2 separate regions of the Homo sapiens genome follow, and region 1 is linked to region 2. The links come from fine-mapping of genetic effects on gene expression. A gene starts in region 2. The other region holds a variant in brackets. All regions are shown on one strand. Distances are between the middles of the regions.

Region 1 (2,906 bases), 24 kb after region 2:
AGATGATTGAGTCACGAGTGAATGGGTCTCACAAGATCTGATGGTTTTATTTTTTTATTTTTTGAGATGGAGTCTCACTCTTTTGCCTGGGCTGGAGTACAGTGGCGCAATCTCAGTTCACTGCAACCTCCACCTCCCCGGTTCAAGTGATTCTCCTGCCTCAGTCTCCTGAGTGGCTGGGATTACTGGCACGTGCCATCAAGCCCGAGTAATTTTTTTGTATTTTTAGTAGAGATGGGGTTTCACCATGTTGGCCAGGCTGGTCTCAAACTCCTGACCTAAAGTGATCCGCCCACCTCGGCATAAGCCACCGCACCTGGCCAGAGATCTGATGGTTTTTAAAACCATTTTTAAAATGGGATTTTCTCTGCACAAGCTCTCTCTTTGCCTGCCGCCATCCACATAAAATGTGACTTGCTCCTCCTTGCCTTCCACCGGGGTTGTGAGGCCTCCCCAGCCATGTGGAACTTTAAGTCCAATTAAATCTCTTTCTTTTGTAAATTGCCCAGTCTCAGGTATGTCTTTATCAGCAGCATGAAATTGCACTAATACATACTGAGTCACTTTCTAGCAACTAAAAGGGAAATAAAAATAAAGCATTTGGAGAGAGACAACTTTTTGCAAAGAACAAATCTTTGCAAAGTAAAGATTCCATGCTTTTTGCCTCTGTTCACTGTCCTTTGTCATAATTATTGCCTCCAAACTGGTTCCTTGTGAGCTATCACATTTCCACTAAAGTTACCTTTCTAAACTAGAGATCTAATCATAATCATAATAATTTTGATTGCCTCCCTAATGTCTATGGAGCAAAGTCAAATCTACTATAACACAGGCCTCTCCCCAATATGGCCCCACCAACCTCTTCAGCATCCTGCTTCTCCCTCTCAGGCACCATCCACTGCAGCCACACAAACACTCCTTAACATGGACACAGCATCGTTCACTCATTCAGATGATACTCACATGGCTAATCTTTCATAAGCACTTCACATTGTTATCTCATTTAATCCTCACAACTGCCCTTTGATGGAGAGAGGTACTACTCATTTTCCCCAACTTAAAGAGGAGGATACAGGCTGGGCGCGGTGGCTCATGCCTGTAATCCCAGCACTTTGGGAGGCCGAGGCAGGTGGATCATGAGGTCAGGAGATCGAGACTATCCTGGCTAACACGGTGAAACCCTGTCTCTACTAAAAATACGAAAAATTAGCCAGGCGTGGTGGCGGGTGCCTGTAGTCCCAGCTACTCGGGAGGCTGAGGCAGGAGAATGGCGTGAACCCGGGAGGCGGAGTTTGCAGTAAG[C/T]TGAGATCACGCCACTGCACTCCAGCCTGGGTGACAGAGCAAGACTCCATCTCAAAAAAAAAAAAAAAAAAAAGAAGAGGATACTGAAGCACAAGAAGATGAACTTGTCCAAAGTGACACTCTATATGAAAGCAGGCTTCACACCCCGATCATCTAGTCTGGTTCCCAGGTCTGTGTTCATAAATACCACACTTTATTCATCACCCATCCCATAGCAGGCACCGTGCTAGGCAATTGAGCCTTCCAGGAGCTAGCAATCAAGTACCAAAGAGACGGCGGGAAGTAAGCATGCACAGTTCAATATGAGAAGGTTTACCACGTAGGCATGTGGAAGGTGCCACCAAGCCTCTCATCAGAGGGGCACCCCACCCAGCACCATGGAGAGGTGGGACATGGTTGTCACTAAAGAACACCTATGCTGATGCCTAGAGAAGCTGGGGTTAGCCAGAGAAAACAGAAGGGTGCAGGGCTAGGAAGAATGTTTCAAGCAGGGCGAACAGGATGAGCAAAGGATAGGAGGCAAGAGAGTGAACTGTCATGGCGAACAGCATTGCTGCCGTACAAGTGCACAAAAGGCTCACTGACCTGCTGCTGACGGGCACCAATGCCCTCGGGGTAGAGGTGCCTGTGGGAGTGCAGATAGCCGATGGCCATCCGGAGGTTCTTCACAGTGATCACAGAGCCGTAGGCCAGGTCTGGGAGGAAGGGAGACAGCAGAGGGGTGAGCTGGCACAGTGCCAGAGGCTGTCCGTGCCTGCGAGGAGCCTCGGAAGCCACAGGGCTCACTAACCCTCTGCGAGACTCCCCTGGGCCCTGGACTGAAGCCCAGCTACCTTCTCACTCCCATGGAGCCGACTCAAGACAGAGTTCACCACAGGGCCCACTTACTCCCCCGCCTCCTGAGGGCTTCAGAAGAAGCTTGTGTTAACACTGTCATTATCAAAGCACTACGTGTAACAGCAAAAGACGAAAAACAACTTGTCCTTCTCAAGGTCTCCACATGGATTCAATGGAATAAAGAAGGAAGTATCTTCTGTCTTCGCCTGGAATGTTCTCCAAGATACAGCATTTTGACAAACCATTTTTTTCACTCTATATCCTTTCGTGCCTTTTGAATCTAGTACCATATGAAATAACTGTTCAATGGTGTTTTGTTTTACTCTGAATTAAAAAACAAAAAACACAGAAAACCACTTCTCAAGAGCATCCCCTGCTCCTATAGGCCCTGAGTTATTGAGAAACCTTTTTTCCTTAATACTGTCCTTCTTCCAATCCGCTGGAATGACCTGCTCCTGTTTTTCTTTGTTCATTCAGTGGACCAGAAGAATTACACACTGGATCCAAAGGTGGAGGAGGCCTGCCTGTGGCCCTGGAAGAGCCCTGTCTACAAGGAAGATGGCTTCACACACTGACAAGTATAGGACAGTGGGCAAGTGCCCCACAAAGGCGTGACAATGTGTGACATGGTGGGAATGGTGGGAACTCGGAACAGGCCAAATTCTCTCCCAAGGATTAAAGAGAGGACGACTTGATCGAAGAGGTGACAGCTGAACTAGGCCTTTAAATAATGAGCAGGAATTTGCTAAACTCCACAGCTGTGTTCT
Region 2 (2,906 bases):
GAAGCCCGGGGAGGCTAGAACTCGCCTAAGGTCACACAGCTTGGATGTAGTGCAGCCACAGCGGGTGCCTGAGAAAAAAGTGAGCTGGGGGGAGTCCGGAGGCAGAAGCAGAGGCCCTCCTCGGCATTTGGGAGGTCTCACCGGGTAACTGAATGTTTTCCCCTTTTGTCTTGGGGGTGGTTTTGCGGAAGCCTGGGTAGAAGTTCTGGACTGTCCAAGGGTGCCAAGGATAGGTAACACCACGGTGAGGGAAGCAGTGCCCGGTTGGTGATAGCGGAAGGGTTACCAAAACTGCGAGCTGAGGTTGGAGACTGGCCTTCCCTTCCCACCCGGCCTGCACACCCCCCACCCCTCTCCCCTGCGGTGAGGCTCCCGCATCTGTCACCCCTTCCCCGGCTGCTCTCTGGCTCTTTCCTCGGAAAGGTTTGTCTTGTTGGTTGTCAGGGATCCACACACCTGGAGCCAGACCGCTCACACGCGGGCGCAGGAGCTCGCCCCACACATCTCCCTTCCCCGGCTCTCGGGGCACCCCAGTACCCTGATACCGGCAGCGGGGTGCACCCCTGCAGTCGCTACCTAAGGAAGACGCAGGAGGCACAAGGCGGGGTGGAGGCGCCGCGCAGGGACGGAGGTCCACCCGCCCAGATGTGGGGAGATCCGCGGGAGGGGATCCCGCCCGGCCCGGTGAGCCCCGCTGGGAGAGTGGTGTGCGGCGCTGGTTGGCAACAGGCGCCCACGGTCGAGAGAGAGGCAGAGGGGCTGTGCCACCCGTCGCCGCGCCCCGCTCCTCTGGCGCACATCTGGCAGGCGCCCCAGCGCCCCGGCAGCGGCCAGTTTTCCCTCCTTCGGGGCCGGTCCTGCCGCGTGACCCCTTTCCCGCCGAGGCAGCCTCCACCCGCATCCCCGGGCGCTCGTGTAGCCCTCACCTGGCAAACAGGACGGTGCCGTGCTCCAGCGGGCTGCGGCTCACTGCCCGCCAGCTCTGCCGGATCAGCTCGGGCTCCGGGCGCTCCATGCTGTCCCGGGGACGCGGAGCGCGGGGCTGGGACCCTCAGGGCTCGGGTGCCGTCACCGCACGTGCCGCGCCATCTCCTCCGCGACGCGGTCCCCTCCGCCCCTCGTACGCCCCCCGTGCCTCCGCCCGGCGGGGGCCGCAGCCGCTCCTTCCCTGGCGCGGGAGAGAAAAGGCGCGCGGCCAGTCGTAGGTGGAGACACCCCAGCTGTGCTTCCGGGGACCCCGCTTGGCCGCTGCGCCCTGCGCCCCGCAGCCGCCAGAGCCGCCCCACCCCGCGACGCCTGGGCTGGGCGCTTTAAAGCCGCCACGGCCCCCGCCCCCTCCAGGCCAGCAAGGCGCGCGCTCCCTCCGCCAGCCGCTATGGTGGCCTGGGAAAGGCCCGGCCTGCAGAACGTAACTGACATCGCGGAGGCTCTCTGGGCCTCAGTTTCTCCTCCCGAGCCCCGAGGGCACTGTGTTGAATTTGGTCGCCTCAGGTAGGCGCTGCATGCGCCCCCTCTCCACAGGCCCCTCAACTCACGCATTGCCAGAGGCATTTGAGTTTGCCACCCACCTGGCCTGCAGGTCAGGCCTGGGGAGGCGGCCTAGGGGCCTAGTTCTCGGTCTGACTAGGGCACCAGCACACGTTGGGGGCCACCAGGGCTTTCAGCCGTAGGGACAGGGCCAAGACCACAGCCATTCCCAGCCAGGCCTGGGTTTTTTTGAGACTCCATCTTTAGAAAGCCGTGAGATCCAGTTCTAATCCCAGCTCTGCTTGGCCAGGGTGGAATCTTGAGGGAGTTCAGCTCTAACATTCTACCGTTCCATGATTTAATTTTAATTTTAATTTTAATTTTTCACCTCTTCCCTCCCTGGGCCTTCCCCACTTCCATGATTTTTCATCTTTTTGTTTGTTTGTTTGAGACGGAGTCTCACTCTGTCGCCCAGGCTGGAGTGCAATAGCGTGATCTCGGCTCACTGCAAGCTCCGCCTCCCGGGTTCACGCCATTCTCCTGCCTCAGCCTCCCGAGTAGCTGGGACTACAGGCGCCCGCCACCACGCCAGGCTGATTTTTTGTATTTTGAGTAGAGACGGGGTTTCACCGTGTTAGACAGGATGGTCTCGATCTCCTGACCTCATGATCCGCCCACCTCGGCCTCCCAAAGTGCTGGGGATTACAGGCGTGAACCACTGCGCCCGGCCTTTTTTTTTTTTTTTTAACGGAAGTACTGTTTAATTTTTTCAATAGAAGTTCAGATAATAGAATCCATGCTCCCCACTCAGGGTGTGCAATTGGCCACCTGCCAATTACAACTAAACTTTTCTCTTTCAAGCAGAAAGTTCCTCAAGCCCCAGCCCAGTGCTGGTGGCCCAGGTTTGGGAGAGCAAGCCCGTTTTCACCTTTATTTCTCTCTCATTATTCCCTCAGGGGTCTCCGAGCCTATCTCCTCTGTCTGTCCACGCCTCTCTGGCCCTGTTTCCTCAGTTGTGCAGCAAAGGGGTTGGGTGGTGAGGTCTCTGGGACCTTTTAGTCCACCTCCTTTAGTTCCATGGGTAGAAGGTGGGTGTTCTTGAGCCCCTGGTTATGAACAGCTGGGGCTCCATGCCCAGCCCTGTGCTAGACATGGAGTGGCGAGTCCTGGTCTTTAAAATTTCTCCTTCTGGCCCTGAATCAGAACTGAGTGCCTCAGCAGAACTTTTCTTTCCTACTCCTAGCCATGCCCCAGGAAATCATCTAGCTGTTCTCCCTCTTCCAAGGACTCAGGAGTTTGTGGTAACCCCTATTCTATTTCCCATTTCCTCACAAATCTCTGGGCTGGAGCAGGAGAGCAAGGCTATAAGGCAGCCTGGAAAAGCTGGTGTCCTAGGGTCCAAGAGGTCTCCAAGCAAGAACACAAAGTGATTGGGGCTG

What was found.
Region 1: its variant is fine-mapped to the expression of NGB in nasal epithelium (TOPMed, PIP above 0.99).

The regions. Positions count from the first base shown.
Region 1 is chr14:77,294,277-77,297,182 of GRCh38, forward strand. POMT2 (protein O-mannosyltransferase 2) reads right to left here. Exons shown (of 21, transcript NM_013382.7): 9 at 1,888-1,997. Among named protein-coding and RNA genes, the nearest start is that of NGB, 25 kb to the left of the region's middle. The variant C/T (reference allele first, on the strand shown) is at 1,303.
Region 2 is chr14:77,269,923-77,272,828 of GRCh38, forward strand. NGB (neuroglobin) reads right to left here and starts at 1,284. Exons shown (of 4, transcript NM_021257.4): 1 at 927-1,284. The coding sequence starts at 1,015.